Linked DNA regions of Homo sapiens: regions 1, 2, 3, 4, 5 and 7 are each linked to region 6. Evidence: fine-mapped expression QTL. A gene starts in region 6. Each other region holds a variant in brackets. All regions are shown on one strand. Distances are from middle to middle.

Region 1 (4,066 bases), 700 kb after region 6:
TGATTAACCGAGAGATGGCCTAGTCCCAATTATAAAACTAATTTGGGAAGGAGTCTTTCCCTCCTGGCGTCTCATCTGTAAAAATGAAGAGGTCAAACACAGAGGCCTGAAGCTTCCCGTGCTGTGAGTCTATGATGTTATGATTTCTGTGAAATATGCTTCTGCCTTTGAAACACAGTCCCAGAATGATTCTACCCTCAAGGACAGCATCGAAAACTCAGCTAAATGCTGGGGTATCTGATGGTCAAGAAGAAAATCCATTATCCCAGAACATTCAAGGAGAATTGAAAAATTTCATACCAAATGTAGCCCACAACCTTGCTTGTCATGGTAAGAAGACAGAGACAGAAGTGTGTGCAGGCCCAGGGAGCTGGGTTGTAAGTGGAGGCGCATTAGCTGAATGAAGTGATGGCAAGGAGCAGGCACGCATAAATATTCCATGACACCCAGTTGATTTATCAGAATGAGTTCCAGCCCTCATTTGTGAAACCAGCAATGAGTCTTTTGGTTGTTCTTTGGCCGCTGCCATCCACTATGCTCTGCCTATGGCTGAAGTTCTTCTGCTCCACCAAAAAAATCATCCCCAATCTACTCTCCCTTAACACTACCAAGCTACTGAAGTTTTCCAGCATTTGGCTTATGAAATATTCACACCAAGTGTAGCAGGACACTTGAGAAAATGGAGGCAATGGAAATTGAGAGAGGTGATGTATGAAACAGCAACAGTGCTCAAAATGGAATGCCAGATTTTCCTAACACTTGAGTCTGGACTCTTTTCATTTAGAATGCTTCTCAACTTTGTCAAGTTATGGCACACACAAAAAATGTTAACATTTGTCTGGCACAATGGAATTAATAGATGGGACTCCCTGAAACTGGACAAGATACACGCTGAAGTTCCCAGGTATCCCACCCCAAGGACTAAAGGAATAGCTTAGCACCGTTATGGTATTAGTCAATTTATGCCAGCTGTTGTAACAACCAAAATCTCAGTGGATTAACACAAGCAAGGTTTATTTCTTATTTGGGTCATTGTCTAACTAGGCATTCCAAGTAGCAAGTGGTTTTCTAAATAGTGGTTCCGGGATCACAGCTCCTTCTATCTGTGGCTCTCCCATCCTCTACACTCTCCTGAGAATCCTCCATTGTTTGATTTATATACAGCCTGCTGATAAGCCAAGAGACAGAAGGAGGAGAATCATAGGACATCTTATGACAGTCAGGCATCCACCACTGTCTCCTGTATCCCATTGAGCAGATAGCAGCCACATGGTCCGTATGGCAAAAGATCCTAGTGCCCCTGACTATCCAGAGCAGAATGGGGTGGCTGAGCATCTTCCCATTATCTGTCACAGGCTTAGCCAGGCTCTTCCTTTGACCTTAGGTCCCCAAAGTGTGCTCCATGATTAGCAGCCCTGGCAGCACCTGGGGCCTTTTCAGAACTACAGAAGCTCAGGCCCTAGCTTAGGGCTGTGCATTTCAGTAAGATCCCTAGGTCATCTTGTTTTGAGAAATATTGCACCAGACCACTCACCCATCTAGTGACCATCAAAACTGCCAAACCCATCAAAACAGCAAAGAATTTTAATCAGTAAGTTTTCTATGGCCATGAACTCCCAACTCAAAATTATGTGGATACATAAAGAAAGGCACCTATCTTGCAAGAGCATCAATATTTATTAATCATGTATTTAGTGTCAAATACAAAACCAGAAACATCACACACATTATCTCATTTAAGGACTACCATAATCCTGGCCGGGCACAGTGGCTCAGGCCTGTAATCTCAGCACTTTGGGAGGCTGAGGTAGGCAGATCACCTGAGGCCAGGAGTTCGAGACCAGCCTGGCCAACATGTTGAAACCCCATTTCTACTAAAAATACAAAAAATTAGCCGGGTGTGGTGGTGGGTGCCTGTAATCCCAGTTACTTGGGAGGCTGAGGCAGGAGAATCACTTGAACCTGGGAGGCGGAGACTGAAGTGAGCCGAGATTGTGCCATTGCATTCCAGCCTTGGCAACAAGAGCAAAACTCCGTCTCAAAGGGGGGGAAAAGAAAACAACCTACCACAATCCTGAGGGAGGAGTCA[T/C]GATCTTTGCTAAAGAAAAGTGAGGAAAAAGTAAGTTTGATATGTAAAGAAACTTACCCAAGACCCCCCTGCTGGTTAGTGAGACAGTGAGACCAGAATTCAGAGCTACATGTTTCTAGTCTGGGACTTTCGGTGTTCTGCCGTGCAGTAGTTTAGCTGCATTTCAAGCTCAGTCTTTAGACAATGGCCCAGTCGATAATAACTTGAAAAGGGCTCTAGAATTATGTAATTTGGAGAAGAAAATGAAATGCTCAACAGAAGCTTAAAACATGCACATTTAAAAATTTTAAATTATTCCATGTAAAAAAGATTTTCTTGAAGTTAGATTAAAAAGAGATCTTACAGGCTGTTCCAGTTAATTTTAACCTCAGTGAGAAATGTCACATTTCCCATGCACATTTGATTAGGCATCCGGGAGTGTCAGGACATCCTGTCCCATGGTGGATTTCTGTGAGAATTATATGGTCTATGGAAATAATTATAAAACAAAGTCTCATCTCAATGTGAACAAGAGGAAGAAAATAAACCTCTAATATTCTGATATTCCAAGGACATGGCAAACCAAGATGCACTCTGAGCTCTGAAATGCCCTTTCATCCTTACACTTCTCCTATTTAGTAATACTTGTTAACTCCTGTGGTAATTGTTTGCATCTCACTGGGGATATGTTTGAATTTATTATGATCTCGACAGGCAGAGAATTTCTCATCGTGTTGACCAGTAGTTCTCAAAGGTAAGTGAGCATGAGGATACTGGGAAAGACTATGCACATGTATATTCCTGAGCCCCATCCCCAGAAATTCTGACTCAGCACATGTGGACTGGCACTCAGGAATCTAAATGCTAAAAATGCAGCCTAGGTGATATTCCTGCAGGTGGTCCATGGACGTCACTTTGAAAAATAAGAATGTCTTTTGCAGCATTGCAGTCATTCATTTGCAGTCTGCTCACTCCTTTCTGTCATTATGGTAGGACCCCATTTCTCATTCTCTTACTTCTTAATGATCAGCTCCTTGCCTAGAATCTCAGGACACAATTATTTTAATCTATAATTCTCAATAAACATTTGCTTAATGAAGGAAAATAAGTGTATAAAATAAAGAAGGTGAAGTAGATGAATGAATAAAAGAATGAATATCAAGTACAATGGGCTTCACTGCAGCATGTTGTAAGGTACTGCCCCTGTCTGTCGTAACCTACTGGGGATTGAACCGACATATTTTTCTGTTTCTGTGCTAAATAATTCTGGGACAAAGCATATTTTCCTGTTTTGTGCCAGGCAATATTGAGATCAAACAAAAATAATTTGTCTTCATTTCCAAAAAATATCTTCTCTTAAAAAATAAGGCTATGTCTTAATTGATCAGCTTACGTATCAGGGCTAACAGCATCAATACGCACATCAACACCCTCACCTGCTTTGCCATGCACAGAAATCAAGTGTTCACATTATAAACTCTGCTCAATCTTAACTAGTTCCCCACCTTGCAACCAGTTCCCTACCACTCAAGAGATAGTGAAGACTGAAACCACAGTAGAAGTCACCTACTTTGAAATACTACTAATCCACTCTCTTCATTTCTTATTTTGAAGATACTATGAGACTGTTGAGGTGACGTCGCAAGAACAAAAAACCAAACACCGCATATTCTCACTCATAGGTGGGGATTGAACAATGAGAACACATGGACACAGGAAGGGGAACATCACACTCTGGGGACTGTTGTGGGGTGGGGGGAGAGGGGAGATACACCTAATGCTAAATGACGAGTTAATGGGTGCAGCACACCAGCATGGCACATGTATACATAGGCAACTAACCTGCACATTGTGCACATGTACTCTAAAACTTAAAGTATAATAATAATAAAACAAAATAAAATAAAATAAAAAATCATCTTAATAAGCTTAACCTTCCTTGATCAGAAAGTTTTCTGGGGAGTCAACAACAAATACTACAAAGCCTCTTAGCACAGA
Region 2 (4,066 bases), 720 kb after region 6:
TCTCACCTCATAATCAAATGACCCTAAATCCCTCACTAACCTACCCCTGCCCTCACTAAACTTAATAATAAATGCTGGTATATCCAGTGCATTGTTGGCACCGCGGGACCAGAAGGCGGTGACCCCCCGCCGGACCCAGCTTTCACTATCTTGTGTGTGTCTATTATTTCTCAACCTGCCGATCTGCCTGGGAACAAAGAGAGAGCCCCGTTGCATTGCAGGCTGCCGGCCAGATCCCACAATATCTCTGGCCAGATCCCGCAATAGAGTATTATCTCCATTTTAAAGACAAGAAAATTGAAGTCCCAGAGGACAAAGAGGTTGAGGTCCAAGGTTACACAGCTATTAAATGTGCATCTACAACCCCTGGGCACAAGAAGGTCTTCAGCTTCTCAGTCTGGGTTGTTGCTATTATTTGTTTGTTTCATTGTTTTTTCCTTTAAACTGAGAATAGCTTTAAATTGATATTGTGTCAGAATCCATAGCCCTTCAACTTCCCAATCTTCAAAGTGTCCCCTTTCCTTCTCCAAGCCCTTTCGCCTATGGTGAGGGCAGGAGATAGTAACCTGTTATACAAAGGTATAACAACCACTTTCTCTAAGAAAGTGACAAAGGTAACGTGTAATACAAAGGTAAAGCAACACTTTCTCTAAGAAAGTGACAAATGACAGCTCCAGGCAGAAAGGAACTGCCTGGCACGTAGCACGTGATCAATAGTTCCATATTGAATGATTTAAGTGGATGAGTGAAATTGACAGAACATGAATTTTGTTGCCTTGGGTTATGGCAAATTATTAGACAATTAATGGGACTTTGGGTCAGACCTACCTCCTCAAAGTCCTGATCTTACCACTTATTAAACAAATAACCTAGGAAAAGTTACTTAGCATTGGTGAACCTCAGTTTCCTCATCTGTAAGAACACCAACAATGCTAGTACCACTTTAATAAGTTGTTATGAGGATTAAATAAAATAATTCATGTAAGATACTTAACTCCTAACTCAACAAGTGGCATCAATGTGAAGGCTATGTTTGGCACTGTTACTTACTGCATTTGCATTCTGAGCTCTCACTGGCTTCTATATCCATCATTTCCCATCCTAGAGATAAGAACCATGAACACTGGTTAAGGATACTAGGTATAATATATTAAATCACTAAATATGTTTGTGTGAGAATAGCTGTATCTATCACCAAATGCATCCTCAAAGACCAAAATTCTAACTTTAAAAATCTCAGTAAAAAATTATGCCAATATTGGAATTAAAAGAATGCAAAAAGATGGACGCATACCAACGTAGAGACAAAAGGGGAACATTAACAAATACAAACAGTTTTATTTACCTGGCATGATGAGATATGTTTTTTCCATTTTTTGTTTGTTTTTATGTTAGCCACAAGGTTACTTATGAAATAAGAAAAAGTAACGAAGAAAAAATTCAATGAAATTACATTTAAAAGCCAATGATAGCAGGAAAAACTTTGCCGTGTTCTAAAAACTGAAATTACTTTTGTTAACCTAAGCATTCATGAGATCACAGCTTCGTTAACTTGACTACAGAGTTTTTTAGTTACTTTTTCTTAAAAATCTCATGAATTTCTGCTTTACTGCTTGAGATCCATACAACAGACTACTTGGCTGGTTTCCTTTTACTTGCCTCCCATGTTTATTACTGATTCCCATTCAACAGCAGAACAGTGAAACAATAGGGCTATTCATAGGAAACACTGATGATTATTTTTATGAATTACGTGTGTCCCGTCAGATGAACTCCATTAGAACTTCCCAGAACAGTACAGATGGAAGGTTCTCAGGCCCAAGGTCATCCACTTGTTATTCCAAATAACCAGGCACCTCATTGACAATTAAGCAACACGCCTTGAGATTTCTAAGAGTTCTCTTGTTTCACAAAATTTCTTATTCCCACAAAGACCTTTAGAGA[A/G]GTATTCTACGTCATTCCCCTTTGGCCCCAGTACTTACTTGTTCCCAAAACAGCATCCTATATGCAGTCAGCAAAGCTGGGTTTGCATCTACTTCTGCCGTTTATTAACCATGTGACCTTGGATAAAACGCTTAATTTCTCTCAGTTTTAATTATGTTAACAGCCCTATCCACCTCCCCAATATCAAGTATATAACATTTTTCTACCATAATTCTATTTTTTCCTAAAACACAAACTGAGCACTTACTAGGTACCAGACCTTCTGATAGGTATTTAGGACCCGAAAAGGAAAGACACAGGATCTGTATCATTAGAGAAGACAGACACACAGATGATAAAAGTATAGGACACTGTGAGACCGCAGTGGGCATGTTGTGGGGTGGGGCACCCATCCATCCTCAGGGCATAAAAGGCTTCAAAAGACGTGATATTTCCATTCACTCTTGGATAAGAGGGACGGAGACAGGAAGGACAGTCTAATTAGTGGAAAGAGCATGGGGAAAGATACCACCACGTCAACAAGGCCAGCACATCTGGGGAAATGTGCTGCGACTCATCAGGGCTGGAGTCCAAGGGAGCATGAGGGGAGGAGGCAGGCAGGATAAATATAAAACTAGAAGGGAAACAATCACATTGATTATTGAGAATTTGTTGGTAACACTAATTAAAATAATCCTTAACATCATTGAGCTTTTGTTCCTGATTAGGTATTCCACAAATTCTTACATTCTCATTTATATCATTACCACAATCCTATGAGGTAGGTGCCATGACTATTTCCATCTTTCAGATGAACCAACAGAGGCCTAGAGGGTTTAAGCACAACAGATGACCAATTCAGGACTCTAACTCAGTTCTGTCTGATGCCACAGTCTCTGCTACTCCTAACCAATGAGTTCTCCTGCCCCAGCTGAGGGTCTGGGATTTATTGCATGGTCAGTGAGGGCCTGTGTTGGATAGACTATAGGGGGACCCCATGACCCCCACCTCTTGGTAGTTGCCTATGTAATTCCTCCTATGTAATCATCTCTCTTGAATATAGGTTGGCCTAATGACCTTTCTCTAACTGACGGATTACAGAAAAAGCAATGAAATATCAATTTCATAATAGAAAACTGTGATGTCCCTCTTGCTAGTAGGCTCTTCCTTGTTGACTGTGATGAAGTAAGAGACCATGTTGGAAAGCCCCATGAGGCAAAGAACTGAGGGCAGTTTCCACTTAACAACAATGAACATAATCTCTCAAACAGCTCTCCGAAAGCCGAATGTTGCCAACAATTTGAGTGAACTTGGAAGTAGGCCCCTCCCCCGTCAACTTTTTAGTGGAGACCCAGCCCTGGACAACTTGACTGAAGACTTGTGAGAGACCCTGACACAGGGGTCTCTAGAAAAGCAGTGTCCAGGTTCCTGCCTCACATAACGGTGAGATGATGAACATGAGCTGTTTTAAGTCACTAATTTGTAATGATTTGTGACACAGCAATCTATAAATAGCACAGAAACTTTGAAGGGTTTAAGCATAGGAATGATAAAAAATTGATCTATGTTTTATAAAGTCAGTTTTGTCATCAGGGCACAGAGTAGATTAGAGGAAGATAAGGAGGAGAGATTGGCTAAGAGGCTATTTCAAGGCAAGACATGATGGTGACCTAAATTAAGGCAGCGACAAAGGGAAGGGAGGAAGAATAGGGGAAGTTACAGAAGAGATATTGGAGGTAGATTCAGCAGGACATTAGATCCAACTTGATATATGGAAAAAGGGGAAGGGAGGGAGCATTGAGTTTAAACACAATGGGAGTCACTGCATCAGCTTCACCCAGAGTTGTAGACCTTACTGCTGTCAGCAGCTACTTGGAGCAGCAGCCTGACCTTCATCAATACCAACAACAGAGGATCCACTGAACACCTATATGGGACAAGGGAATTTCTTAGGCCATTTGGGTACCAAATTCTAAAAGCCTCATGCTGAGAAAATTTGACACTCTTTAAGACCACAATAAGAGAATCATCCTCTTTGAAATTCAGCCCAGACAGGAGTCTTGGCATCAGGACACTACATCTAAATGCCCCCTCAATGAAGCAGTTCACTTTGGAGAGAACCAGAGGCAAGTAAATGGTATCT
Region 3 (4,066 bases), 68 kb before region 6:
CATCCTGGCTGGCAGAAGATGGTGGCTTGGCCAAAGTCTCCAAGCAGGTCAGCAACACAGCAGGGAGTGCAGCCCAGGGCACCTCAAACCCTGCGTGCCTTCTGTCAACTGCCTCAGGATTCACCGGGGGACTCAAGCATCCATTTCCTGGTCACCTCATTTATGCCAGGAATTGGGAGAGGTTGCCAAAGGACAAAGAAAGCAAATGAGGCATTATCAGTGCAGGGAATAGCCAATATGATAATGTGAGGCCTGCTATCCCTGGGGTACTAAGAGCAGCTTAGCTCTTATTCAGTGCTTGCCTGTAGGCCAGACGCTGTCCTAACCCATTTAAATCATCACAAGAGCCCTGCAGAATTGGCCCTTGCTATGGAATGAACCGTCCCCCACACCCCCACCAAATTCATATGTTGATGCCTTAACCCTCAAGATGACTGTATTTGGAGATAAGGCCTTTAGGAAGGTAATAAGGTTAAATGAGGTCATAATGGTGGGGCCCTAATCTGCTAGAATTGATGTCCTTATAAAAAAAAAAAAAAGAGGTGCCAGAAAGCACTCTCACCATATGCACATAAGAAAGCCATGTGAGGACAAATTAGAAGGCTGCCATTTGCAAGCCAGAAAGAGAGCCCTCATCAGAAACCAACCCTGATGACACCTTGATCTTGGGCTTCCAGCTTCCAGATCTGTGAGAAAATAAATTTCTGTCGTTTAAGCTACCGAGTTTGTGATATTTTGTTATGGTAGTTCTAGCAAATTAATGCAGGACTATAATTATCATCCCCATTTTGCAGTTGAGGAAGCTGAGGCACAGTGTGGTCAAGCACTTTGCTGAAGGCCATATGACTACAACTATTAAGTGACAGAGATAGGAGTCAGACCCAGGCATCTGTCTGCAGAGCCCAGTGTGGCCAACTGCATTATGCAACTATTTATTCCCCTTCTAGCAGCCTCCACCTCTCACTGTGGGAGGACAGACAGTATACCTCCCTGCTCCACTGACATTGGGCTTGGCCATGTCACTTGCTTTGGTTGACAGAGTGTGTGCAGTTCTGGTATGTGCCATCTCTGAGCAGAAAGCTGAAATCTGACTAAGTAGTTCTTTCAGTTCTGGTTAGAGGACAGCATGTCCTGGTTAGCGACTACCTTCACCCTGGACCTTAAACTGAGAAAATTCACAGAGCATTGCTGAGCCACAGCTGACCTGCAGGTTACCCACAGCATTTTCACTTGTAACGAACAAGAAATAAACACCTGTTGCAAGTCACTGAGCTTGGAAGATTTTGTTATGCAGCAAAGCTGACAAACACAGAGTTCCTTTTGCAAGTATTCTAACGCCCCCCAACAAACGTTTGATTTGTAAGAACTGAGTAGATAGTCAGGAGAGCCGACTTCCACTCAGGCTCTGCCATTTTGCAGCTCAGTGGCCATGGATAAGCCATTTCATCTCTGAACTTTAGTTTTCTCATCTGCAAAACAGGGATAATAAGCATCCTTACATTCTGGGGCTGTTGTAAGGATTCAGTGCCTGTAACAATTAGGATCCACTGTCTGCTCCCCCTCCGCCCCATCTCCGCCACCCCTCCTTGAAGGCCCTCCCTCCTTCCTTTCCTTCCTC[C/T]CTCCGTCCAGCCCCCCACTTCCTGGCTGCCTTAAGAAACTCCACCCTAGCTGGGCCAATTGTTCTTTGATCAATTGTTTTTCCTTATCTGTGTCTAACCCGCATGGACTCTTCTGCCTGGCTTTTACAAATGGCAAGTACGTCGCAGCTCCACCCTAGGCCTTATCGTTAACAAGGACTTTCCTGAATATCTCCAGATGTAGTGAAAGCAGGTACATGTCAAGTATATGGAACTACATGGCATTTCCTAAAAATAACTGAACGAGAGTGGAGAAAAAAACATGCACTGCCCACCTTGAAAGGCAGAGATGGCAGCACTGTGAATTATGTTTACGATGAGGTGATGCATTAGGGCTGAAGATAGAGGAGTCTGGATTAGAATCAAGTGCTGCTCTTTCAGCACAGCCTTACAGTAGGTGCTCCCTCAGCCAGGCAGTGTGGGATGTCTACACTGTACATGGAGAGGAGGGGAGGCTGGTCCTGCTCAGGGAGGTGGCAGAAAGGAGGCTGGGAGGAGCAGAACTTCACTGGGTTCCTGTGAAGGCTGGGCTTTCCCAGCCTGGAGGATCACTGAAGCCCAGCATGGAAGGTGGGGAGGGAGGGCATCTGGAGAGTCTGACTCCTCTCCCCCTCCTCCAGTCCTGCATCATAGATGAGAAACTAAGGCCTGGAAAAGGGCAGTGCCTTCCCCAAGGTCATGGAGCCAGCCAGCCTCAGAACTTGGACTAGAACCCAGTCTCCTGAGACCTGCTCAGTCATCATTCCATCGCTGGGCCTCCTGCTCAGTTAGAAGGAAATGAGATTCATCCCTTTTGCTGGCTTGGAAGGCAAATGTCAAGTTTCTCTGCTCTTGTGGGTGGATTTACCAAAACTCAATCCAATCCAATCAGCTTTTCTTTGAGTCATTTCAAAACATCTCCCGTTTCTGGGAAAGAATCAAGCCCATTCACCCACTGCCTGGGGCCTGGAACTGAAAGTGGGTAGTGAAGTGGGAAGTCAATCCCAGGCATAAAATAATAGCTGCTTGTTTCTGGTTTGGTTTTTTGAGTCCTTATTTGTTAGTTTGTTTTTCCCCCAAGTCCTGAGATAGGCCATGCTGGGGGAGAGTGGCCACAGGAAGGTACAGGCTCTGCCCTCAAGAGCTTCCACTCAAGAGTATGAGATAGGACCTTCTATGGTCGAGAAGAGACAGGGGAATTCAGCATAGGTTGGGCTGGGCAGGGAAGGCTTCGGAGAGGAGGTCAGACTGGCAACTCTTCTGGAAAATGGGAAGAAGATGACAAGGCAGAAGAGAAAAGGAATTCTAGTCTTGGAGGGTAAAGTTTTGAAAAGGAGTGAGGAGGACAAACATTCCAGATTTTTGTTTTTTCGGGGGATCTAGGGGGAAGTAGAAAGAGTTGGTAATGGGGAGGAGAATCCACGATCTCGAAGTTCAGGAAGTTGGGTGAGAGTGAGCCTCAGTTTCTTCATCTGCTAAACAGAAAAGACGGGCTAACTCTGCAGACACCTGGGGGTGGTCAATGATGTAGTACATGTGAAACATCCCAGAACAGGCACTGCAGACAATTTGGAGTTGCAGTATCCAATGCAGGATCCATGGTTGACAGACAATTCTTCATGGGTCTCTTGCACTTCTGTGTGTCTTGCAAGCAGAAGCACTGACAGCCTTCTTTTCTGAACTACCTTTTTAAGGAGGCACAGAGCCTGGAACATAGAGATAGTGTCTCCTTCCAGAGCAGGGCTCAGGTGTGCTTACTCTCCAGTATCATAAAGATAATGCCTCCCTCCAAGAGAGAAGTTGAGTAGGTTCACTTGCAGCCCATTATAATAAAAGATTGTGGTTCCTCATCTATGAAGCAAGCCCGTGGGTCTTGGGGTACAAGTAGAAATGATGTAAACATGAAACTTAAGGCTGCCTGCCGTGCTGGAGTAAAGTCTTTTGGCTCTGATCCAGGAAGCTGCTATCTTTTGTCAGCATCTGCCAACGAGCTAATTTGTTGGCTTGCAAATAGGTTGACATCTCAGGTCTGTCACAGTTCTTTATATCTACTAGCCTCACGTGGCTATTTCTTTTCTTTCTTTTCTTTTCTTTTTTTTTTTGAGACGAAGTTTCACTCTTGTCGCCCAGGGTGGAGTGCGGTGGTGCAATCTTGGCTCACTGCAATCTCCACCTCCTGGGTTCAAGCGAGTCTCCTGCCTCAGTCTCCTGAGTAGCTGGGATTACAGGTGTGTGCCACCATGCCTGGCTAATTTTTGTATTTTTAGTGGAGACAGGGTTTCACTATATTGGCCAGGCTAGTCTCGAACTCCTGACCCCACAATCCACCCACCTCGGCCTCCCAAAGTGCTGGAATTACAGGCGTGAGCCACTGCACTCACCTGCTATTTCTAATTAAACTTATATTTTAAATTTAAAATACAAGTCCTCAGTTGCACTCATTAATTAAC
Region 4 (4,066 bases), 50 kb before region 6:
CAGTAAAGGAATGCGGGCAAGGATTCTTACTTACAAGCATCATATTTTGGGACCTCTGTGCAGGTCTTTACAATCTTCCCCACTCATCATTCTTTCAGCCCACGCATATTTACTGAGCAGCTGCAATGGGCCAGGTAACGTTTGTGGGGGCTAAGTCTACAGCAGGGAACAAAACAGATGAAGGGAGCTGAAATTCTAGGGGAGGCAGAGACTATGCAAAGAAATGAGTGTGTAGAGGTCAGCTGATAGGGAGGAACATAGAGAGGCTGGAGCCGGGGACAACTCGCAGCGGGGTGTGGTGTGCACAACACCTGCCCACACGCTGCTTGGTATATATTCCGTGGTGAATTCCATCTTGCTGGAGGCAGCCCCCTCTTCTGGCACCACAGAAGTTTCTGCGTCTTGACACTTCTGCCTTCAAAATGCTCCTAGTTGTTCCACTTTCAACTGAAACAATTTAGATCATCAGGACTCCTAGAGCTTCTCACAAGTCACTGTGAAAAGCTGTTGGGTATGGGCCCACCTAGGACCTTTCCTGAGCCAGGAGCTCATGGGTTTGGACCCCTGTTCAGCAGAAACATGAATCCCCTGCAGGGAAGCAGGGTCTCTGGCAGCCCACCCCACCATAGCCTCCAGTCTAGAACAAAAGGACATTTGCTTGAGGTATCAAAAGCCTCAAAAAGTGCTCTTTCCTTCTACTGCATACGTAATTCCCCTTTTCGGAGTCTATTCCAGGAAATGGCTCAATGTGCAGTTTTGTGCCCAAAGATGTTTATCATGTTATTTTTTGTGGGTTTTTTTTTTTTTTTTTTGACAGAGTCTCACTTTGTCGTCCAGGCTAAAGTGCTATGGTGCGATTCCAGCTCACTGCAACCTCTGCCTCCCAGGTTCAGGCAATTCTTGTGCCTCAGCCTCCTGAGTAGCTGGGATTACAGGTGTGCACCACCACACCCAGCTAATTTTTGTTTTTGTGGGTTGTTTTTTTTTTTTTTTGAGACAGTCTTGCTCTGTTGCCCAGGCTAGAGTGCAGTGGTGCAATCTTGGCTCACTGCAACCTCCGCTTCCTGGGTTCAAGCAATTTTCCTGCCTCAGCCTCCCAAGTAGCTGGGATTACAGGTGTGCACCACCACACCCAGCTAATTTTTGTTTTTGTGGGTTGTTTTTTTTTTTTTTTGAGACAGTCTTGCTCTGTTGCCCAGGCTAGAGTGCAGTGGTGCAATCTTGGCTCACTGCAACCTCCGCTTCCTGGGTTCAAGCAATTTTCCTGCCTCAGCCTCCCAAGTAGCTGGGATTACAGGTGTGTGCCACCACACCCAGCTAATTTTTGGGGGTTTTTTGAGACGGAATCTTGCTCTATTGCCCAGGCTAGAGTGCAGTGGCGTGATCTCCGCTCACTGTAACCTCCATCTCTTGGGTTCAAGCAATTCTCCTGCCTCAGCCTCCTGAGTAGCTGGGATTACAGGCGCCTGCCACCGTGCCCAGCTAATTTTTGTATTTTTATTAGAGACGGGGTTTCATTATCTTGGCCAGGCTCGTCTCAAACTCCTGACCTC[G/A]TGATCCACCCACCTCGGCCTCCCAAAGTGCTGGAATTACAGGCGTGAAACACCGCCCCCAGGCCTATCATGTTATTTTTAATAGCAAAATGTAGAGAGCTCCTCCTGCATGCTCCACATTAAGGAAATTATTAATTAAACCATGATATGTTAAAATATCTGTTACAGGACAGAAGTTTTCAATCATTAATAATGATCATGAAGAATTTTAAATAACACGGAGGAATATCTACTACACTGTTAAATTGGAAACGAAAAGAGAAAAGCATTTCAGAATTATAATTCCAATTTTAGTATATGTTAACCTAGAGGAACCAAAATGCCGTGAAAGAAAACAGTATGAACTACTAAGATAGGTACTTTCTGGGAGAGTGGTTTCTGTAGGATTTTCTGTTTCTGTTTTGAGCTTTTATACTTTTCTCTGTTTTCAGGATTTGTTTCAGTGGTCATGGGTTACTTTTCTGAATGAAACTTCCAAACTTCCAAACAAAACAAAACAAAAACCTTAAAAATGGTGGTGCCTTTATAATCTTCTCCAGCAGCCCAACTCTGGGCAGAAAGCCTCCCAGAAGTCTTTGACGTGAGCACTCCCAAGAGCTATATAGAATGGGGAAGCCATCTAAGATTTAAAATTCTATTCCTAGAAGCTTATACCCAAAGCAGAGAAAAAGTAGGAAGCAATATAGAAAGCTAGCAGGAAGGAAAGTTCAGAGGATGTGGAAAAACGCAGACCCAGCAACATTTTTTAAAAATCTAAAAAAAATTGCAAATGGCTTCCCTGGAATGGTGGCTCAGGACACTGCCCCTAGATGCTGAGGCTCTCCAGGCACAGAAGGTTCCCTGCTTTAATTCAAAGCCCCATCACAGGCACAGTGTGGTTTGATCTCTACCCCTCTGGAAATGTGTTGCAATTCCAAGTCATAGCTGAGGGTCTGAGGCTCAGAGAGGTCAACTGACTTGCCTGAGGCCACACAGCCTGTGTGGGGCAGAGCAGTAAGTGGGACCTTAAGCCTTCTGATCTGACTCTCAGAGTACTTTACCCTGTACCCCAGCTGGTCCAGGGTGCTGAGGCGCTGGCACAGAAAAGCCTACGTTCATATCCAGCAGAGTCACCTGGTGGCCGCAGGGTCTTGCTAGTTAACCCCTGAGAGCCTGGGTTTCATCCAAAAACTGAAGACAAACATAACACTGGCCTAAGGGGCACAGTGTTAAGCACGTGACACTCCACAAGCACACACTAAATGGACACACTAATTACTGTCGTTATTTTGCCACCACTATCCTCCCTGGAGTACAATCCTTCTCTGGCCTCCTGGTGTGCTCCCAACACCCTCACCAGGCGAGGGAAGGGGCTCATCTCACTGTCTCTGTCCCTAGAGCCTAGGGCAGAGAAGGTGCTAAGAAAATGAGCACTGTGGGGAAGAGACAGGGATGAAATCTCTCAAGAAGAGACAGCCTTGCTGGGGGAGACATTCAGCACGGTGTTTCTAAACTTCATGGAGTTTCTGGACAACTGTGCTCAATTCACTTCTAATTTCAAACAGATGGGGCTGCGCTCTGTCACTCCCACCTGGCCCAGGGCCCTGGCGAGCAGCAAGGGGCCTCTCCCTTCTGCCCTGCTGAGAGGGGAGTTGCGTGGCTTCTGGGAGCAGGGGAAGTGGGTCCTAACTCTTCTGTGGGGGGTTGCTAATCTCCCAAACACCACAGAGAACATGGGAGACTGGAGGGTCCAGGTCTCAATTCACAGACACTGCCACACCCCCATGCACACCTCTGTCCTAGCACAAGTCACAAAGGTGTGCAGCTGTTGCTTTCTCCACCCTTAGAAGCAGTACAGAGATTCCACAGCCAAACCACCTGAGCCTCAATCTGGCTCTGCCCACTTTGCTGGGCACCCTCAGGCAAGTAACTCAACCTCCCTGTGCCTTCATTTCCTCCTCTGTAAAGTGAAGATGGTGATGCTTAAAGTGGCAGCTACTTCAAAGGGGCACTGGAAGGATGCATCAGGAGTTCCTGCAGAGCATTTAGAAGGGTCTTATTGCAGATGGAATGGCCACTTGTCCTGCTCTGTGACAAAGCAAAGTCGACTCTCATGGGACTCTCAGGACCTCCCTGGAGGCCTGCAAGAGGTCAGCACCATTCCTAGGTACCAGATTTATGACCAATTGACAAATGTCTGTTGAGCTTCTTGCTGGAGAACAAGTACAAACGGACTGGCAGAAGGCTGGGTATGGGAGCCACAAGGGTCTCTATCCCTCGTCCTCGTCTCTCGAAGTGGGAGTGTATTTTTTCACCCACTGGATGTTGTGACACGCTTTAGCCAATGGAATGTGGGAAGAAGTGTCAAGATGCCAGTTCAGAACCATAATCATAAGAGCTTTGTGTCCTTCGGGGAGCTTCTGACCTCCATTATGAGAAAAACATGCTTCAGGCAGCCTGTGACCCTCCAGTCAGGGCCAACTCAACTCAAAGACTAAGCCAGAACCACCACATGTGACCCACAGACCTATGAA
Region 5 (4,066 bases), 330 kb after region 6:
AGCCTACATCAAGGAAGCTGCCTGCTGTTAGGGGAACAGGATACCTGCAGAGGCTCCGGTCCTGACAATGCCTTCAGCTCCACCTCCCACCAAAGACCTGTGTGGTGTCAGCAGCAGCCCCATTTGCAGGTGAGGACAGAACTTAGAGCCCTGACTGTTGGGACCCTCTCCACCTAAAATGCAACCCCCTGAGGTGCTGAGGAGCACACCAGAGCCTTCTTCCACTTGCCAGCCCTTCAGCTATTTACAGGTGGGCCTCACATCCCTCCACAGTCTTCTCTGCCCCTCCAGATAAACATTCCCAGTTTCTTCAACCATCTCTCAGGGGATAAACATGCTCCTCACACATTCTGTTTCTCCTGGTTCCTGCTTTCTATCAAACAAGTTGTTTATATCACCTGGCTGATCCTTGCCATATGTTACTGCTCATTTCTGGAGTCTGAATAGTCTGGCTAATTATCATTTCTCCCATGGGCAGAACTTCCCAGAGCAGGTTATCTGCAATGGAAGCAGTGATGCAGCACCCACATGTCCCAGAGGAAGGGTTGTCAGCTGACAGCTCACAGCTGGATCACGCTGGGGGATTTTTTTTCTTTCCCCTGGAGAAAATGCATCTAATGACTGATTGAGATGACGAACAGAAGTCTGGCCCTTTGCGTAAGTATGAAAGGTCTTTGAAGGGCCTTGTCAACTTCTGCACTCCCCATGGAATCAGCTGAGATCTCTGTTTCAACTGTATGGCAAGTTAACCTTGCCCTCTGCCCAATTCTGCTTCCTTTATCACTTAGGTTGCTGATCCTGACAGTGCACCATGATAAACCTTCTGCATAGATATTTTCATCTCGGGGCCTGTTTCCCAGAGAGCCCAACCTAAAGACACCTGCTCGTCAATGCAAAATGAGCCTGTGAATTAACTGCCTTGAGTCAGATAGTTAGAACTCATGGTTGGCCATAACTTTCTTTAGGAAAAAACAGCCTAGGGACAAGGATAGAGCTGTTTCCTTTACAAAGGGGGGATAGGAAGGCCTGTCTCCATGACCATACCAGAAGAAAATGCTTTCGAATTCCTTTGCCACCCTGACTCCCTTCTCTGCTTCACTTTTGGTGGTTTCAAAGGTCTTATATAGGACTAGAAACTTCAGACGGGATCTGGATAGTGGAGAATGGAGATGGAACCTCACACCATAAATAATTGCCACTAATTTATGTACTATTCTAGCTCCAATAGCTACAGTCCTGTGTTTATTAGCCTAAATAGGACCTGAAGTTGTGTTGTGATCTTGGCTAGCCTTGTTTCTCTGACTATATCTCCTGACATAATCCTGTGTTGCACCCATTGCGATAGCTTGTATACTCTATTTACTTTAGTATAGCCAGTATATGCCATAGCCATAGTATAGGTTGTGCTGTCTGTAACTGAAGTTGCCACCTGGCTTGAACCTCTTTTTCTTTTCGCCAGCTATTTCCCCTGCCCACTTCAGTCAGCCTGAACAACTTCTGTACTTCCTTGACACCTCAATTCACTCATCACCTTCTTCTACATTCTTAGCACCTTTGCTGACCTCTTTAAGCTTAGATGGGTCATCCCCACTTTGTGCTCCCACCCTAGTTGCCCTGCAGACCTCCATCACAGCATTTGCCATTTTTCTTTGCAGGACCCTATCCTTCAGGGCACTGGTCACATCCCATCCACCTTTGTACCTCTAGCAGCTAGCGCAGTGGTCACATCTCATCCACCTTTGTACCTCTAGCAGCTAGCGCAGTGCCTAGGACATAGACAGTGGAATTAGAGTAAACTAAACTCAAATTTTATAGTTCTAATTTTGAGACTTTCAGCCTATTAGAGAGATACCAGCTCTGCCAACCTACCACATTGCCTTGTGATACATTAGGCAACTTTGCAAGCAGTTTCAAAGTTTCCGTTTTGTGACTGACCTAACTAACTCCTCCCTAAACCCACAGGAGGGAAGTGTGAAATGGGCTCGAT[G/GT]TTTACAGTAACAAAACTAGACATGCAAGTTGCTTCTGTTTGTTTTGATTCAGAAATATTTCAGCACAGAGCATTGGATTAAGGGGGATGCCTGGCGGAGGTGAACCATGTGATCATCCTGACTTTATGTTTGTGGCTACTCCTGAATCATGGCTTAGGAAAGGGGAATCCAAGCAGAGCACAGCAGGTTTGCTAAACTGGGGAGGCAGAGATTAGAGTTTAAAGTTTACAAAGTTTCAGGATGACAGAGAGAACAGAGCTGCATAAAAGAGCAGCTCCAGAAATTTATGTATCAGTCCCCTTAAGGCACTGGATGCAATTAAAGTATACATGTTTAGGGCAAGACTACCCAACCTTTGGCAAAAACAACTTCTGGAGAGCTACAAGATGAGCAGAGATCATTGATGATACACAGTGCTGAGAAATATAGGTGTTCCAATAATCCAGAGTGGAGAGAAGACCTCAACTGAGATCCAGAAAGACTACATCTGAGAAGCAGGGTTCCTCTCATCCTAGAGTAAGAGTACTCTAGAACGACTCTAGCAAAGCTTAACAACAAGCCTTAAAAGATCAATCTAATCTTCCAGCAAATTAACTGTCCGCAATAACAAAACTTAGCATTCTCTGAAAAAAACAACAAAATGCAGACTCTCAATGTAGCGTCACAATGTCTAGAATACAATAAAAATTTATAGACAAACGTAGAAGCAGGAAAATGCAATCTATGCAAACATAGCTAATGAAAGCTGATCCTAAGATGACTCAGATGTTGGGTCAAGAATTTTAAAGCAGCTTTATAAATATGTTCGAGTACATAAAGGAAAATGTAGTGATAATAAATTAACAGACGTGGAATCTTAACAGAGCAATGTAAATTATAAAAAGGAACCAAATTAAAATTTTAGAACTATAAAGTACAATATCTGATGTAAAACATTAACTGATGGGCTTAACAACCAACTGGAGACAACAGAAGAAAGGACTAATAAACTTTTACAAATTAATAGAAATTTTTCAGCAGAAAACAGCTGGCAGAAGTGTCAATATCTGGTAAAACTAATATTTATTTTAATATTAGTTTTGCCTTAAAATACTTCTCTCTCTCTCTCTCTCTCTCTCTCTCTCCACTCAGTTCTCTCTTTTTCTTTCTATTTCACAGTGATAACTCCAATTTTAATTTAGCACCATAGGGTTGATTCTAGCTTTCTCTTTCCTATATTTGTCACTCCCTTCTCTGACGGTGCAAAATCTAGGTCCCATTTTCTTTAATACTATTACTTATTGGATCAATCCTCCACATATGTTTCAATCATATGTATCCCACACCATCACCACCCTCTCTCTTGTGCAGGTGCCCTCCTCACTCTGCTTAGGCTCTGAAAGCCCATGCCAAACCACTGCCCTCTGTGGACACTGCCCTTAACATTCTCTAGCTTAGCTGCCTCATTGTGTTTCCTCCCCAACCCTTGCAAGTGGAAGACTCAACATTATTAGACCACTTGGATTTATGAAACATGCCAGACTCACTTGCATTTCTGCCCATCCTCAAATTTTCATTCCCTTTGCATGGAATATCCTCTCTGACATGACCAATGGGCAGAGTCCTCTTTTTAAATTTGAGTTTAAATATTTCCTAATCTTCAAAGCCTTCTTCTGTGCTGGGGATGGTTGCAATGCTCCTTTATCCTAGTCTTAATCTTGCATGCCCCTCCACTGCCCAGGTATTTCCAGACCCTTGTGCACCCTGGTGCACTCTGAATTCCTTGCAGGGTGAGCATCATCAGCATCTCACACATCAAAGATGCCTGATGGTGTGGCCACCGAAACTTACCCCTGTTGCAGCAGCACCAGGGATGTGAGAATGGCTGTGTATGGCGAACAATGTGTGAAGTTAATACACCAGCTTCAAGCGTGTTTTGGGGCACCTGCATATCTATCTCTCATGCCTTCCGCTCTACTGTGACGGGTCAGTTTCCACCCCCTGCCGCTTCATTGCTGGAGGATCCTAATAAATTCAAGATCATTTTACTCCTTAGTTGTTTTTCAGGCTTTGGACAAAGTCTGCTACCCACAGTGCAG
Region 6 (4,066 bases):
GCAGCGCGGGGTAAAGAAAATCAGGAGGCTCCGCCCGCAGCTTCTACGAACAGGCCAGGAGTAGAGCCCCCGCACGTAGTAGGTGCTCCAGGCACGTCTAGAAGCCTAAAGGGCTTGGTCGATACATTTGAACTCCATTTTAGAGACTGGAAGGGAAGAAGGGGGCGTCCGGGCCCCTGCCAGCACCTTCCACCTTGGGGCCTTGTCAATGAACACTGCGTTAGCACCTACGACGTGCCAGGCGCCCTGGCGACTATTGGAAAACCCGGCTCCCCTCTCACCCCGTTTTCCTCGTTGGCGAGTCGGCCTCGCCTCCTCCTCCCGTCTCTTCCTCTCACCACACACACCCAGCCGCAGAGCGGGGGTGGGCGCTCGCTGTCTCCCTGGAGAACCAGCTCGTCGCAAACTTGCGGGGCTTGGGGACCCGCGAGGGGGAGAAGTCGGGAGAGGCCAGGGGTGCCCGGAAACAATCACGAGAAAGCCGGGCGAATGCCTGATGCAGGGACGCGGCGAGCCAGTCACTGCCCTCAGGGTCACGGCTGACTCCCTCTGCGGGACTCGCCCAGCCCGCGAGACGCAGTGACCTGCCCAACCCCCACCCCCTTGCGCGCTTCTGGGTGCGCACGTGTCCCCTCGCCCAACACACCACCGAGCCCCGCGCATGGTACGGCCGCCGAGGACCCTAGCGTAGGAGGGAGGAGCGAGTCAGGGCTCCAGCTGACGAGCAGAGCCAGACGATCCCCACACGCTTCCTGGGAGACCCGGCTGCAAGGCCAGGCTAATGCGCGCTCCGACGTCTCTGTGCCAAGCCGGGGCGCAAGCTCAACCCCCATCTCAAGTTCAGCCGCGCTTCCTCCCGCAAGGTCACGCTTAAACACTCGCGCAGAGAAAGGAGGAGCGGAAAGTTGCGCCACCGTCCCGATTCCAAACTAACTGTACCCTCACCAGAGCGCCTCGCCCCAGGGTCACCGCTGTCCGTCCCCGTGCGCTCCCAGAAGGGGTGGCCCTGCCCCCACGCAGGTCACACACACGAGAGACACAGGCAAGTTGCTAACTTTTGTCAGATTATTTCTTGGGAGCTGCGACGCCTCACGGGGTTGGGGCGGATTCAGAGTTTCGAGTTGCCACTAACACGACTCCGGCCGTGCTCTCCTTGGCCCACCCGCGTCCCCCACTGTCCGCCACGCCGCGTTCAGCTCTCTTGTCCCGGGTGTCAACTTCACCCCCAGATCCGGAGCAGCGCGCTCTGACGGCGTCCCCGGGGCCGATAGCCACCTCCCGGATCTGCGCCTGCTTGCAGCGGATTGGGGGACTCGATCCGGATACTGTCCCACGGCCGCTCGTCCAGAACACTGGCGGCCTCCGCGGTGTCCCAGCCTGTGACCCCAAATCCGCTCGAGAGCGCCTGAGCCCGGCCACCCAGCGAGGTCTCCTCCCACGGGCGGCCCCAGCGGAGGAGATCCCAGCCCGGCGCCGGGTGCAATGTCACTGGGGCTGCTTTCGGGAACCGCTGCCCGGGACTTGGCGTAGGTTCCCCACAGAGCTCCAGGCAGCTCCTCCAGTGTCGGCCGAAGACCCCTAAGCCCGAACCTCCACCCCGACCTTCTTCCTCTCCCAAAGCCCTGGGTGGTCGCCGCTGCCAAGGAAGGGGTCTCCCTTCGAATGTCTTCCACTAGAATCCCGGGGTCTTCAGTCCCAGCTCCACTGTCACACCCTCCTAGTCCCCTCCCCACCCCTTCAGTTCCCGGGTCCAGACAATCAACCTTCCACTCCGAGAATCCACAGGAAACTGCCCGAGCCCCAACTCAGGCGGACGCAGCCCCCGCGCACCCCGAGCAGGGTTCGCCTCCGCGCGCGCACTCACCACGGCTGGAGACACGCTGGAGTTTCCGGGATTTGGGCATGAAGGGGTTCGGAGGAGAATACAGGGGTGTGGGTGTCCCGGACACTTGCCCCCTTCCCAGCTCACATCGCCTCTTCCTTCTCTCTCCGCTCTTCTTCCTCCTCCTCCTCCCTCCGGTCTAGGGCTCTTTGTCTTTGCAAAGTGTCGAAACTGTCTGGCATAGTGGGCTCCGCCGGCGGAGGCTGGAGCCGAGGAAGCGAGGAGGCGGGATGAGGGTGGGAGAGGGCTCGGGAACACCTTCCCCCGGGTGTAACGGGAGTGAAAGGCGGGGCGACCGAGGAGGGGCCGCCTTCCCTGGCCGGCCGGGGCCGGGTGCCAGGGCGCGCCAGAGCCCAGCCACCGCCTCCCCTGCGCGCGGCCCTCCCCTTCCTCCGCCCAGTGCCCGCCCCTCCCGACTCTGCGCCTCCGTTCGGCCCCGCCCACCCCAACTTGGCTCGGCTTTCCCTTGGCTCCGGGCTTCCTGCAAGCCGAATTTAGCTCTGCCAAGCCACGTGGACCGCAGCGGGCTCGGCAGAGGCCGAGCCTGGGAGACGCCGGAGGCGGCGGCTGCGGCGCGGGGACCTGATCGGCGCCCCGAGAGGAGCTCCCCGCTCTCTGGACGCGGCCCTCAAGCTGGCGGGGCTAAGGAAGAGCGCCCGGGAGGCCCGGGAGCCACTGGGGTCCGTTTCAGCAGGAAGACGGGCACGCACCGAGAGGATGGCAGTGCCCAGAAGAACTCGAGTCGGGGGCACGGTGGGGAGAAGGGGCCGATCCCCTGCTGGCGACCGGGCAGAGCCACCCACTTCCTCTAAGGGCGCGGGACTCGAGGTGGGATTTAGGGAGGGGGAAGGGAGGAGCGTGGGCTGGACGACTCTTGCGGCCAGAACCGCGTTCAGAGCCACAGAGCCGGGCACTGCGGCCGGCCCTGGTCCCGGCCCCGGCCCTGGCCCAGCCCTTGCCCTGGCTCGCCTGCCGCCGCTTTTTCCTTCCAGATGCGGAGGCTGCGGCTGGAGCTTGGGGTTTGCGGATTAGGCTTGCAGTTATTCAGCCCTCCCTCTTTTACAGGGAAGCGGGGGCGGTGGAGACTTCTTTTGCTGAAAGGCAGAGTGCAGCGCTTTGATGCTAAATGCAGTACACAAGTCATGTAAATCTGGTTTTACGGTTCTTAACCCCTTACTGAGACTACCTCTTTCGCAACTTTTCGGAGGAATGTTAGAGGAAAGAGGCACAGTTTGCCTTTGGGGTCATTGCATCCTTCCAGCGCCCCTTGCTCCAGCTGGAGAGAGATCAACCTTTTGCAGTGGAAGGGGAGAGTCCCCCAGCCTTTGTTTCATCAGACGGCTGCTGTAGTACAGGGATTCAGGCCAGGGCCCGCATGGCCGGACTTCTTGGTTCAAATCCTGCACTGCCACTCAACGGATGTGTGAGCTTGGGCTAGTGACTGAACCTCCCAGCCTAGGTGACTCTGTGCCTCGGTGTCCTCATCTGTGAGAACCGACCTAAGAAGTGTCTGTCTGATAAAGCTGTTGTGATGAGTTAGTGAATTCGTACACATAGAACCTTTAGAACTGTCTTTGACATGTAGTAAGTCAGCTGTGTAGATGGTGGGTTTCTCCAGTGTCAGGTCCCTGCCCACAGCAGGAAGATGACCTGTGCTAGAAGATGGGGGCTAGGGTGTTGGGGAAGACTTCAGGGACTTGGGAGAGAAAAGGAGAAATATTCAGAGATGAGAAAAGTAGAAGAAAAACCAGCTTTTAAAAGGGGGAGGAGAGAGAATGAGAAAAATAACTACTAGAAAGGGAAGGAAAAGATGAATAGCCTTTTAGGTACTTCGGGACCTGCTCTGAGACCTCTTGCCTGACGCCCTTGGTTTTTGATAGAATTCTAGAGAAGGGGTGAGCCCTTTTGTCTGCCTGGACACATCCTGTGGGCTTTCCTCTTTCTGAAACTCAGGTCAAGGTGTTCACTGCATCTCCAGATTGCTTGTGTGCATGGGAGGAGGGGGGCAGAGAGTTCTGCTTACATCGGCTACTGTCCCCTCCACCAGCAGCGTCTTCCAGCAAAGAAGAGCTTCTAACATGCACCAGACTTTTAGCTTTGGCTGGGAATATCGTCTGGGCCAATAAAGAGTTTTTGGATGAAATAACAAAAGTGTTGTTTATTGTATGGATCAAATAATGTATG
Region 7 (4,066 bases), 120 kb after region 6:
CAAATGATTAGAAAGTGGACATCTTTGAGAGTCATTCTGCCTAACACACACATCATTACTATCTTCATCTTCATTATCATCATTACAAAGCAGTTGGATTACCCAGAACCATGCGTAGTTTGCATATCACATGACTATAAAAGGTAATTTTACAAAATACGATGAAATCTAGCAGAAGTGGTTCTAAAGGAATGACGAGAGGACAATTTACTTGGTAAGGTGGCCAGTTGGCAAGACTGAGAAACTGGTTGCAGTGACAGGAATCACATTTCTGAACCAAAAGCAAAACATCAAAAGGCCGTGGTCTGACAAATGTGAATACTTAAATGGACATTAGGTGAGCATACTGGGAAGATGTAAGAGGGGAAGTGGCCACAGTTGTAGAAGCAGATTTTGGGGTGATACCATTGAAGTAAAACTTAAAGGCTACTATGCCAAAGGGCCAATTTAACAAATGGAAAAAATATGTATATTTCAAAATGTCAGACCTCAAGGAGAAAGGTTTGTGACAAATTAAGAGTGTGAGATTTGAATATTTTACACTAATAACCACAGTGTTTCATTCCTCAGTAGTGACTCATTTTGTTCTCTCTCCATACCAACCCCATCTCTCTCACACAGACACACATGCTCCCTAGTACCCAGGGCTCCCAGGACTCATGCCTTGGGAAGTGAGAGGACTCAGCCCGAATTCATGAAACTCAGATAAAGTGGGAGGCGCATCAGGTTGAAGGGAATCCAAGGGCCATTTCCTTGGGAATTTCAGAAAGAATCTGGGAATGTTATAAACATGGTTGATGCTTTGAGAACACAGGTTCTAGTCTGGATGAAGTCTTGGCATGTTCTTAGAGTTGCCTGGGGCTCCAAGCTTTGGTGATTGGGAGGCTTTCACGGATGCAGAGAAGAAACACTACCCTGTGACAAGCATCACTGCTGAAATCTCTCTGTGGGCTAAGCCTCTTCATTTACTTAGTATCTGAGAAAGGAGGAGAAGAGTGGCTTCCTGTCATTTGTCCAATCCAATACATACTTGTCGAGAGTCAAATATGCTGAAGCCATTCTAGGCCCTGGAATAGGAGGTGAGCAAAGCAGACTAAATCCCTATGCACTGGGGCTTATTTTCTACTGTCCACCTCTCCTTGGTAAAGTTCTACTCACCTTTGAGACCCACCATGGAAACCACATCAGTCATTCATGCATGAACACATTCCTATATTCCGTCAACATCTCTTAAAAATATACCATGCTAGACACTGAACCTTGCAGAGGTGTGAGAAGGTCTTTCCCCCAGAAGCTGAAGTGCAGAAGATAAGACGTGATAGGTAAAGATGCACACACATGGTATCATGGGGGCAAGGTGAGAAGCAGAACCAGTGCTAGGAGTATAGATTGGCCAATCCCAGACCAAGGGCAGAGGCATCCTTAGAGGAGGTCTCCCTGGGGCAGAATGTCAGGAAAGGCATCCCCAAGGGATAACTGGGTCAGGGTGGAGTGGGGCTGGTGCTGTGGAAGCCCTCAGTGTGGGATGGCTCATGGGGTTTCAGGGAAGCCTGGGAATCCAGGTAGGTGGAAGAGCAGAATGGGCAGTGGTGGGGAGATACAGGTGACAGGGAGAGCTGGAGAGTGGAGGGCAGCTACTGGGGGCCCTGTGGCCACATTGCAGATACTCTTTTGGGACAGAGGGCCTGGGGGAGGGTGAAAAGTGCCTGTCTTGGTGACCCCCACACCAGTGATTATGCATTATGACAGTTTGACCACAAAAAAAGCACCCCATCTACCCCCGACCTGTTTCAGGAAA[C/T]GGTTAGCCACAGAAACCCTTAGCCCTAATATTGAACAATCCTTCCTCTTTTGAAACTGAGGAGCTGCTTGCCTGCCTTTGCAGCTAAGGGCAGCTGAATCTACCTGAGGACCTATTAGGATGTTTCCTCGCAGCTAAAAATCCCGCCTTAATAGTATACTTGTCAATCCAAGATTGTCTCAGCATTTCCTGTTTTTATTCTATAAAACTGACTCTCCTTTCTAACACCTTTGAAGCCCTGCTGAAATGAAGGCGACAGCAGGCTACCTCCCTTGCTGCAATTTTATGGATAAATGTCGTTTGTTTATTTGATCTTGGATGCAGTGTTGTCTTTGCCACTAGAAAGCGTGACATGAAAGATTCTGTCACGATGAGAATACTACTTACTGAGGATTCGCAATGGGCCACTGATCAGCACTTCATATAATCTGCACAAAATCTCCCATTAAGTAGGTACTCTTGCCTTCATCAGCATCATCTTCACTTTATAGGTAAAGAAAGTAAGGTACAGAGATGATAATGAACTTGCCCAAAGTCACACAGCTGGTAAGTGATGAAAATGGGATTTGAACCCAGGCAGCCTCAAGATTCTGCACTTTTCCCCACTATACGATGTGGTTCTGATGCTGATGAGGTTTTCCTTCACATTTTTGAGGGCCTGTAGTGTTTTCTGAGTTCGGAAATGACGCGCGAGAATTTAGACCTCTGATGGACTGCTTCACCATTCCTGAGGGATGATGGGGTGAGGGTGGGAGGCTGAGGGGGGTAGTCCGGACACGAAGCCCAGGCAGAGGCCCCAAACCAGTGCAGTGGCAGCTGGGATGGAGGCAAGTGTGAGCCATGAGAGACCTTATCCAGTAGGCTGACACTTTTCCAGGCTGGAGTCTTTAATTCCAACCACAGAACTTGGAAGGACAGGTAGGTAGGACAGATAGCATTTTACAGAAGATGAAGAAACTGAGGTCAACGGTGGGTCACTCGCCTAGAGTCACTCAGCAAACTTGTGGCAGAACCAGATTCCAAGGATTCACTGGCTCTCAGTTGTGGACCTGGAGGGAAGGTGCAGCCCCAGACACAAAGCTGGAGTCCCAGGACATACCTGTTGCTTCTGCCTGTGGGGTATTTGAGCAGCTCATGCTCTAGCCTACCTGCGCCTCATCACAATAGTTCCTGAAAGGGACATTGGAGTTAGAGTTTGAAAGCCACATTTATATAAAGTGTCACTTTGTCTTCAGGCCAAATGTGAAAACTGGATTGTGATTTCCATTTTGTGGATGTGGTTTGGGGGTTAAGCGATAAAGCCAAGGAGACGCAGCTGGTAGATGGAGCAGCTAGGTCTAGTTCTTGGCTTTGAAGTCGAGGGGGCATTGACTGCATGAACTGCCTTCATTATCCACTCACCTCATTAAGAGCATTGGCAAGACTGTGAAATTGACCCTAAGCATGTGTGTGCTTTCTTTGAAACATAACTTAAAGGGTAAGTGTAAAGATTCACAATGCACTGGAAAGTGGGGGTGAGGTCTAGCAGGGCCTTTTCTGATATTCTGAGAGGTCATTTAAATCTTGTCTGGTCTGTTTCCAGGCCCTGCAAGGCACCAGGCTTGCTTTGACTGGCTGCCCTCAGAGTGTATGAAGATGAGAGTGTTATTAGAATCCAAAGTCATTCATTGGCCAGTGCTGGTAAACTAAAATCCGAAACGTGTGCAAAATGCGTTTTTTCTTTGGAGAAGGTGACATCTCATCTGAGTGCCTCAGGCCCCTGGAAGATGTTATCTGCTAAGAAGAAATCACACATGCCAGGTTACCCGTCTTTAGGTGATTTCTTCGAAGTGTGGCCGCACCTCCCTTGATGACTGCTGGGGGGTGTAATGAATCACCCACTTGCGGGAGAAGGCTGGAGAATTTGCTTTACCAGAGATACAGAAGTGGAGGGAATGCACAGATATTGAAGTGTGTGTGCACGCATATGTGAGTTTACATGCTTTGCATGCCCCTGTGTGCACACATGAGTGCATTTGTGTGTGCACAAGTGCATTGATGTACACACATGTGCATCTCCAGCCCTACTGAGGTCTCACAGAGGGGCAGATCAAGACAGTTCCTTAGAAACAACTACTAGCAAGGCATTTATGGAAGTGGCCTGGCCCTGGGAAGCTCAGAGCATCAGATTGTGAAGCAGAATTTTACATAATGACTCCAGGAAAGGATGCGGAGTAATGGAAGGAATACCGATTTAGAAAGCAAGGGGCTAAGCCCTGTCTCTGCTCC

Direction of the effects. Alleles are on the strand shown, and positions count from the first base shown. SD is a standard deviation of normalised expression in the study named. Not every link is listed here.
As copies of C replace T in region 1, the expression in unexposed skin of the gene that starts at base 2,059 in region 6 goes up (small effect, 0.38 SD a copy in GTEx).
In carriers of allele G in region 2, the expression in tibial nerve of the gene that starts at base 2,059 in region 6 tends to be lower than with A alone (small effect, 0.32 SD a copy in GTEx).

The links.
Region 1: its variant is fine-mapped to the expression of ST3GAL1 in unexposed skin (GTEx, PIP above 0.99).
Region 2: its variant is fine-mapped to the expression of ST3GAL1 in tibial nerve (GTEx, PIP above 0.99).
Region 3: its variant is fine-mapped to the expression of ST3GAL1 in whole blood (TOPMed, PIP above 0.99).
Region 4: its variant is fine-mapped to the expression of ST3GAL1 in whole blood (TOPMed, PIP above 0.99).
Region 5: its variant is fine-mapped to the expression of ST3GAL1 in whole blood (TOPMed, PIP above 0.99).
Region 7: its variant is fine-mapped to the expression of ST3GAL1 in whole blood (TOPMed, PIP above 0.99).

Annotation. Positions count from the first base shown.
Region 1 is chr8:134,269,124-134,273,189 of GRCh38, forward strand. No RefSeq gene overlaps it. Among named protein-coding and RNA genes, the nearest start is that of ZFAT, 440 kb to the right of the region's middle. The variant T/C (reference allele first, on the strand shown) is at 2,090.
Region 2 is chr8:134,288,769-134,292,834 of GRCh38, forward strand. No RefSeq gene overlaps it. Among named protein-coding and RNA genes, the nearest start is that of ZFAT, 420 kb to the right of the region's middle. The variant A/G (reference allele first, on the strand shown) is at 1,945.
Region 3 is chr8:133,501,902-133,505,967 of GRCh38, forward strand. All of the region lies in intron 2 of ST3GAL1 (ST3 beta-galactoside alpha-2,3-sialyltransferase 1), which reads right to left. Among named protein-coding and RNA genes, the nearest start is that of ST3GAL1-DT, 67 kb to the right of the region's middle. RefSeq lists an enhancer at 1-228 and a silencer at 1,119-1,188. The variant C/T (reference allele first, on the strand shown) is at 1,619.
Region 4 is chr8:133,519,980-133,524,045 of GRCh38, forward strand. All of the region lies in intron 2 of ST3GAL1 (ST3 beta-galactoside alpha-2,3-sialyltransferase 1), which reads right to left. Among named protein-coding and RNA genes, the nearest start is that of ST3GAL1-DT, 49 kb to the right of the region's middle. RefSeq lists an enhancer at 3,678-3,847. The variant G/A (reference allele first, on the strand shown) is at 1,554.
Region 5 is chr8:133,897,560-133,901,625 of GRCh38, forward strand. LOC101927822 (a long non-coding RNA gene) reads left to right here. Exons shown (of 4, transcript NR_125424.1): 2 at 1-129; 3 at 479-657. Among named protein-coding and RNA genes, the nearest start is that of LINC03024, 220 kb to the left of the region's middle. RefSeq lists an enhancer at 1-188. The variant G/GT (reference allele first, on the strand shown) is at 1,988.
Region 6 is chr8:133,569,829-133,573,894 of GRCh38, forward strand. ST3GAL1 (ST3 beta-galactoside alpha-2,3-sialyltransferase 1) reads right to left here and starts at 2,059. Exons shown (of 10, transcript NM_173344.3): 1 at 1,865-2,059. ST3GAL1-DT (ST3GAL1 divergent transcript) reads left to right here and starts at 744. Exons shown (of 2, transcript NR_186509.1): 1 at 744-1,042; 2 at 1,230-4,028. RefSeq lists enhancers at 1-699, 59-278 and silencers at 2,069-2,558, 2,749-2,808.
Region 7 is chr8:133,692,638-133,696,703 of GRCh38, forward strand. No RefSeq gene overlaps it. Among named protein-coding and RNA genes, the nearest start is that of LINC03024, 11 kb to the left of the region's middle. RefSeq lists enhancers at 1,395-1,664, 3,797-4,066. The variant C/T (reference allele first, on the strand shown) is at 1,799.